Homo sapiens: one gene and its partner. Each later gene encodes a partner of the first gene's protein in a complex. Each region holds a gene or a part of one and is shown on either strand. Other genes may lie near its edges.

Evidence for each region.
Region 2: the proteins of ACVR2B (region 1) and GDF2 are in contact, whole or in part, in a crystal structure (PDB 4FAO), measured with the Homo sapiens proteins. Residues at the interface, in NP_001097.2 of Homo sapiens: Asn35, Glu39, Cys49, Glu50, Glu52, Lys55, Leu57, Tyr60, Ser62, Arg64, Val73, Lys74, Cys77, Trp78, Leu79, Asp81, Phe82, Asn83, Glu94, Gln98, Val99, Phe101; in NP_057288.1 of Homo sapiens: Arg333, Ile346, Ala347, Pro348, Lys349, Glu350, Tyr351, Glu352, Lys397, Ser399, Pro400, Ile401, Ser402, Val403, Leu404, Lys406, Gly410, Val411, Pro412, Thr413, Leu414, Tyr416, His417.

Annotation. Positions count from the first base shown.
Region 1 is NC_000003.12:38,451,762-38,455,506, reverse strand, and holds the start of ACVR2B (activin receptor type-2B precursor), read right to left. Parts: upstream 1,618-3,745; 5' UTR 1,185-1,617; coding exon 1,133-1,184; intron 1,121-1,132; exon of another isoform or gene 893-1,120; coding exon of another isoform or gene 823-892; exon of another isoform or gene 687-822; intron 1-686. UniProt on the Homo sapiens protein: Transmembrane serine/threonine kinase activin type-2 receptor forming an activin receptor complex with activin type-1 serine/threonine kinase receptors (ACVR1, ACVR1B or ACVR1c).
Region 2 is NC_000010.11:47,320,887-47,324,631, forward strand, and holds the start of GDF2 (growth/differentiation factor 2 preproprotein), read left to right. Parts: upstream 1-1,567; 5' UTR 1,568-1,782; coding exon 1,783-2,128; intron 2,129-3,745. UniProt on the Homo sapiens protein: Potent circulating inhibitor of angiogenesis. Signals through the type I activin receptor ACVRL1 but not other Alks. Signaling through SMAD1 in endothelial cells requires TGF-beta coreceptor endoglin/ENG.

The DNA of each region.
Region 1 (3,745 bases):
TGGGGACTCCGGCCCCGCCCCTGCACGCCCGGCCCCGCCCCTCGAGGGTTTCCCAGACTCCAGGCGGCTGCCACCGAGGGCGGCGGGGGACCCGCGCTGCATGTGTAATGGGGGCTGGGAACAAAGACGCGCAGGACCCGGCGGCCGGGTACCAGCCGCCCCGACCTTCTCGCCAGAGCTTCAATGCCCAGCTCCCCACGTTTCCCAGGACTGGCCAGGGGACGTCCCGGCGCGCCCGCCGGGGTTAGGCGCACCCCGGCACCACTGAGAGAGGGAAATCGGTGCTTGGACCGTAGGAGAAACAAGCTTTCCAGGCGGAACTCCGCTTGTTTACGCCCGCGCCCACATACCCCCAAACACACATGCGCTGGCCGAACACCTCCAGCCACACGCCCGCAGCCGCGGGCGAGCTGAGCGCTGGTCACCCACCCCGCCACGTGCCTCCTGGAGGCCCGAAGGAAGAGGGACCTGTTGGGTTTTCCATCTTACCCACCCCCTCCCCTCCCAAGTGCCCAAACAAAGCGGTCCCGCGAAGCGACCACACTCCGCATCCCGGGGCCAACGGCAGGGAAAGAGGGAGCAGGTGGGAGCCAGCACCAACAGCCCGCCGGGCCGGTAACGCGACGCAGACTGGTGGCAAGAGATGCAGGGGACTTTGGGCTGCGTGAAGCCGCCCCCTTCGCTTCGCTACACTTAGTGACTCTGAGGGACATGCAACCCTCCCCGCATGCTGCTGCTGCTGCTGCACCTACAATCCTGCCACCCCCAATGAGATCTGCCCACCCCTCTTGGCCGCCTTCCCCACGCTCAGGTTTTCCTCACTCTTTCCCTGGGTTCCACGCGCCCGCGTAGCCCGAACTCCGACCCTGAGGCTCCGCGTCCCGGCCCCCATCGCAGGGGCGCCTCTAGGAACCAGAATCCCGCAGATGACTGCACAGACAAGATCGTGCCCCCAAGTTCGGCGAGCCGGGCGCCCACCGCGCCCCCAGCCCACGCCCCCGGAGGTGAGGGCTGAATACAGGTGGTGCGGCGACGAGGCCCCGGGCCCGCCCTTTGTTGGTAAACACCGCGCGGCGCCAGAGGCCAGCCCCGCGCGCCCTCTCGGCGTCCCCGCGCCGCGCCCAGTTCTTACCGGCGCACAGCGATCCCCAGAGGAGGGCGAGGGCCACCCAGGGCGCCGTCATGTTCCGCGGCGCCGCCCCGCGCACACCCGGAGCCCGCGGGCAGGGCCGCACGGCGCTCCCGGGGCGCGCAGGGCCAGGCGGCGGCTGCGCTCTCCTTCCCGCTCCTTCCTTCGGTCTCGTTCCCTGCGCGCTTCCTGCGCCTTCGTCCCCGAGCAGCGTTCGGGCTCCAAGGGCCGGTCGGCGGGGCCGGGCTCAGGGCCGCTGCGGGCGGCGCAGGCTGCGGCCCGGGCTCCGGGGCGACGCGGGGGCCGGGGGGCGGCGGCGGGGCACGGGCCGGGGCGCGCCCGACTCAGGCATAGCGCGGCGGGGCTGGGCCCGGGCCCCGGGCGCAGGGGCCGAGTCCGGAGGGGCCATGAACGGGGGGAGGGGTGGGGGGGAGGGGAGCTGAACCGAGTCCAAAATGGCTCCTGAGCGGCGGCCACGGAGCCGAGCCAGCGGGGAAACCCGGATGTTGGATACAAAGAGGCGGGCGGGCTGGGCGGGGAGGGGGAGGGGAGGCGGGCCCTCCGGCCGCGTGGTCCGCGCCCCCCTGAGGGGCGGGGCCCCAGAGAAACAACAACACGGAGGCCCCGCCCCCATCCCGCGCCCTGTGGGAGGACGCGCGTGCACCAACTTGCTGGAGGACAGGGCGGGGCGCGCGGACGGAGGTGGCGGGAATGGGCTCCTGACCACTTTGCCCGGGAGCCTGTGGCCACTGCACTCGCAATTAGTGCCCCGCACGCTCGAGCCCAAGCTCCTGACACATGCTGCCCTACAACCCCGGAATGAGTGGATAGTCCCGGGACTCTGGCCCAGACGCCTCTGTGCCTTGGATTCCCCACCTGTGCAATGGGGGTGACAGTGAACCGTGGGAAAGTCGGATCTCTACTGATGGGCGAATTAAGTGGCAGAAAGAGGCTGACTTCCCTGAATTGACAAGCAGTCTCCCGTCTGCAATCCCTTGCCACACACTCAAAGGCACAGCTAGGGCGGGGAGTGGTCATTTAAACCCAACCAAGTGAGGGAGCGGGCAGAGTCCCGCCCCTCTAAGCCCAGCAGGTGGAAAAGGGCCTCTGGCAACCTGCTGGCCCTCCCTAATCCTATCTTGTCTTCTGCAGTTCCTGCGCCACCCACAGCGGCCCTGAGCTTCAATCTGCACTTTCAAAACTTCCCAGTTGCCTCCAGAGCCCTGCAGTTGAAGATCTTGTCTAGCACATGGTTTTGCTGTTTTCCTCACCCCGAACTCCCTCCTTGGAGGGCCATCGTTCTCTGTCTCAGATTCCACCCTCCTTATCACACAACTAGAGCTTCGGAGGAACGTGATGGGGCTCCCAACTAAGGAGGGAAAGACCATCATAGCTCAGGGATGAGGCTCCGAGATCCTCAGATAACATTAATTGTCCTCTGTCTTCTCTTGACTTGGCACATCCTTGCTTGGAGCAGGGCAGGAGCAGCTGAAAGGGAGGTGGCACCTGGAGGTCTCAGTCATTTCACTTCTCTGAGCCTCAGTTTTCCCATATGCAAAGTGAAGAGGTACACTCCCTCAGGGTTTTGCATCTTCTTAATGGCAGAAACCTAGTCAAACAAAATATTATGTAAATGTTCACTATAGGCAGGGCGAGGTGGCTCAAACCTGTAATTCCAGCACTTTTAGAGGCCCAGGAGGCTCTTGAGGTCAGGAGTTCGAGACCAGCCTGACCAACATGGCAAAAACCTGTCTCTACTAAATAATACAAAAATTAGCTGGGCATGGTGACACACACCTGTAATTCCAACTACTCGGTAGGAGGCTGAGGCAGGAGAATCGCTTGAACACAGGAGGGAGGCGGAGGTTGCAGTGAGCTGAGATTGCACCACTGCACTCCATCCTAGGTGACAGAGTGAGACTCTCTCTCAAAAAAAAAACAAGTTTATAAAGGAATGTATATTGTTCTGATTGACATTGAAATAGGGTCAACTACCCCCGGTCACCAGAGCAGCAGGAACACCTCAGGGGCCACACTTTGGAGGCACTGCCCAGAAAGATTTCTGGGTCTTTAAAAGTCCCTTCCAGTCCTGGGAAATTCTATGTGAAAATGATGGTCCCTGCTTGCTATAATCCCTACAGGTGACTTATTATCTAAGCCATTTAACACAGGATTGAATACTATGCGACTGTGTGCCAAGCAAGAAGCAGTGTTGTATGGGACACCCTAGCTGTGTATAAGGTATCTGGTAATAACACAGGAGGCCACAGTGATAGACTGTGATAACGGAAGTAATTCCATATCCAGTTTAAGTGTCTTTTCTAGGGAGTATAAATCGTTATCTCCATTCCAATATGGACTGAAAGGTATCGACTTTTATCCATGTGCCAAAAATTAGATTGGCTGGTTCCTCTCTTCTACTCCATACCAGGTCAGGTATCATAATAAGGACTCAGAGTGGTCCAAGCTGCCCAAATATCTGTGTCTTCCACTCTGACCTGTCTGGGAACCCCAAATTTATATCCAACTGCTTACTTGACAACTGCAGTTGGTAGCCTATCAGGCATCTCAAATTTGACCTAGCCAAAGCAGAAGTCCTCATTTTCCCCGTAAATC
Region 2 (3,745 bases), on another chromosome or scaffold:
CGTCAGGTAGCAGCCCCTTGCTCCTCCCTGAGCACATCCAGGCCACTAGGCTATCCCTCTGCTCAGCCTCTCGTGTGTGAAAAGCTCCTGGCCAGACCATGTTGCAGGCATCTGCCCTGTCCTCACTCCTCCCGGACCACACCTCACTCCGCATTTGCAGCTCCATTTCTTGGGCATGGCACCCATTTATTCATCTTTTCTCTGCCCCATGGAATTCTTGCACTGAGCTGGATCAAAGCCCAGCACACTTCCAGTCCTCTTCCCAAGCAGCATTTCTGAAGCAGCACGCTTCCCGTCTTCCCCTGGCCCATGTCATCAAAGGACAGAGATAGCAAGTTCTATTCAGGCCCAGCCATTCAGGGGCTCCTGATTTCACCCATCCCCCTCTGCAATCTCTGACCGCAGCATGCTGTGGCCCCTCCTGCACCCCCCTAAACCTGCTCAGCTCTCTGCAGCCTCTCCCGGACAGCCTCACCAGCATAGAATACCTTCCCCAGAGTAAACCACCAGGCACAGCATACCCCAGAGTGTTTCTAACCATGATCCTTCTTTGCTTTGCTCAAAGCCACACGTGATGGAAATGGACAGAGTCTAAGTGTGGACATACTGCTCTTAACGCAGTCCCTGGGGCCCTTTCCTGGGCCACAGCTTATCAGCCTCCAAAGGCCAGGGGATCATCTTCTTGGCATGTACCACTCTCAGAACAACCCACCTACTCCCCTGTCTACCAGATTGCGTGGTTCTCCCTGCTGATGAGTGTGGGCCAGGTGGCTGCCAGGTTGGTGTGAGCTAAGACCACCCCACAACAGACCAGTGACACAGCTGGGATGCAGGGATGTGGGGAGCTCCCCACAGGCTGCAGTGTGTTGTGGAGCTCCGACAGAGCAGGCTGGGGGAACCCAGGGCTTCCTCCCCCAGCTCCAGCTCAATCAGGCCTGGGCTGGAGAGGGGGCATCCAGAATGCAGCCACCAAGCCAGCCTGGGGCACAGCATCCTCTTAACCCCTATAACTATCTTCTGAATGGGAGGCTCCAAGAGCTGCAGTGACTTGTTCCAGGTGACATTTGCAGGGAATCGGTGAGGGAGTTGAGATCCCAGCCTGTGTCTAGTTTGACTCATCACCGCACTAAATTGCACGGGAGCCATATTCACTCGTGATCTCTAATGCTCAGCAGTGCATCCCACCAACAGAGCAGGGAGGCTTGCTGGCAGGTTCCGATTCTGCAAGGAGCAGGCCTCTTCTGAGCCCTGATGTGGTCCCCACACTCTCCCCATCTCCCCAGCCCCCACGGTTCACTGTGATCTTGTGCTGTCCTTTCTATATTTGGAGGACTACTTGGTCTTGTTTCCTGGATTCTTCACTCCTGTGGCCCAGGAGATGGAGCATATGTCACCCTGCCTGGAGATTCTTCTGAAGAGCCCTGGCAAGGAAATGAGAAAGTATCCTAATTAGGGGGCAATAACCCCCTGGAGAAGCACAGATTCTTTACAGTAGGCCGTGTCCTTCCCGCATGCCCTGTGTGTTTGTCAGATGTTTATAGAGCCTTCATTAACGGAAGGCTCCCTCAGATAAGACGTCGGAGCGCGGCATCGAGGACCAGATAAGCACAAGTGGAGGACAATCCAGCCCGGCAGCGGGTGAGAGTGGGTGCTGGCCAGGACGGTTCCTTCAGAGCAAACAGCAGGGAGATGCCGGCCCGCTCCTTCCCAGCTCCTCCCCGTGCCCGCTAACACAGCACGGCCGCCTGCAGTCTCCTCTCTGGGTGATTGCGCGGGCCTAAGATGTGTCCTGGGGCACTGTGGGTGGCCCTGCCCCTGCTGTCCCTGCTGGCTGGCTCCCTACAGGGGAAGCCACTGCAGAGCTGGGGACGAGGGTCTGCTGGGGGAAACGCCCACAGCCCACTGGGGGTGCCTGGAGGTGGGCTGCCTGAGCACACCTTCAACCTGAAGATGTTTCTGGAGAACGTGAAGGTGGATTTCCTGCGCAGCCTTAACCTGAGTGGGGTCCCTTCGCAGGACAAAACCAGGGTGGAGCCGCCGCAGTACATGATTGACCTGTACAACAGGTACACGTCCGATAAGTCGACTACGCCAGCGTCCAACATTGTGCGGAGCTTCAGCATGGAAGGTAGGGTCTCCGCTTGCACCATGCGCGCTGGGGTGGGACTCACAGGTCCACAGCTGCTTTCCCCAGGGTGGAGGCCACTGGCCATAGGAGGCTCTTCAAGCTTCCATTTAAATTAGTTACAATGAAATAAAATTAAAACTTATTTCTTTAGCCTCACCAGCTTCCTTTCAAATGCGTGGCTAATGGCTTCCCTATCAGGCAGTGCAGACTGAAGAACATTTCCATGGTTACTGAGAGTTCTACTCAGCACTTCTGTTGTGAAGGATTCACCTTCCCCAAGCTGTGTGCCACATTTCACACAGCAGGTGCACAGGGATGCCAGCTCTCTTTTTTCCACCCCTTCTCTTTACTCTCCTCTTCTTTGCATCACTCCCCTCTGATTCACTTCTCTTCCTTTCCCCCTTCCCTTCCTGTCCCCTTCCTACTTCAGAACAGAACAGGCAACCTATTTCACCTCCAACTAACTGGGATATTTTTAAATTTTCAAAGCACATCTATTCCTTTCTTATGAAACGGTTTTAAAAATCAGATAAAATTCTTGGACAGAGAAGTGTTGGCAGAGAACCTAATTGTTTTTAAATAGAAATATATCTGATTTAGAAGGACTAGAAGATAACAAACACGGACCTAGGACCTATGTCCTAACTCAGACAAGCTCACATGATGCAGGGGAAATAAGTTTCTGAAGAGCAAAACTGTTCAGTCAAAGCTTGCAGCCACCAAGGGTACCCACCCATGTCACCTAGGAAGTGTTAAGCCTGCACACCTAGGAAGTGTTAAACCTGTCTGCCTGCAGAGCTGGCTTTTCCTGCTGCTGCTGTCTCCCTCTGAATGTCCAGGAGCACAGAGCCTCTCCCTTCCTGGGTCTGAGACTTGCAAATGGCTAAGGGGCCTGGCTCCATACCACGCCCAGGCCAGACCTAACTGGTCTGCAGAGGCAGGACTGGCACTTCAAAACCTGCCAGCTAGGTTTCCCTATAGCACAGGGTCTCCACACATGTGGGTATATAGCAAGTGCTGAAAAAATGCAACCTCTTTTCCCTGTCTGTGAACCAGCCATTGTATAGCAGGAGCGTGCTAATGACAAAGTGTCAGCCCAGGATAAATGGGATATCGAGATAACTATGTGGCTAAAAGCCAAGCCCCATTTTTGCTTGACATGACAAAGCAATTGAAGCTAATAGATTTTGTTCCTGAAACACTAAAACCAATTATCCACTTTTGCTTTGTTTGGAAATTACAATTTCAAACGATTTATACACTGTTTAGAGGCTGAGATTTTTGATATTGTCTTAATATTGGGGTTTCACTGTCCCCACCCAGGATCTCTCCTTTAAATTCATACACTCAGGATCTTCACTCAGGATCTGACAGTGAGTTTTTCTGTTTTCTTTATGTACTCAATAGCTGTGTGCTAGTAAGTCCCAGAATACTTAACTAGCTGTATGCATTTTGGCAATTAACTGCCTTGAATCCCAGTCTCCACATCTGCAAATGTGGAATAATAATTAGATCCTCCCAGGGTAAGTGAGAGGATTAAGGTGAAATGTATTCTGCAAAGCTCCCAGTGTAATGCCTGGCACATAGTAGATGCTCGATAAACAGTAGGAACTCTCA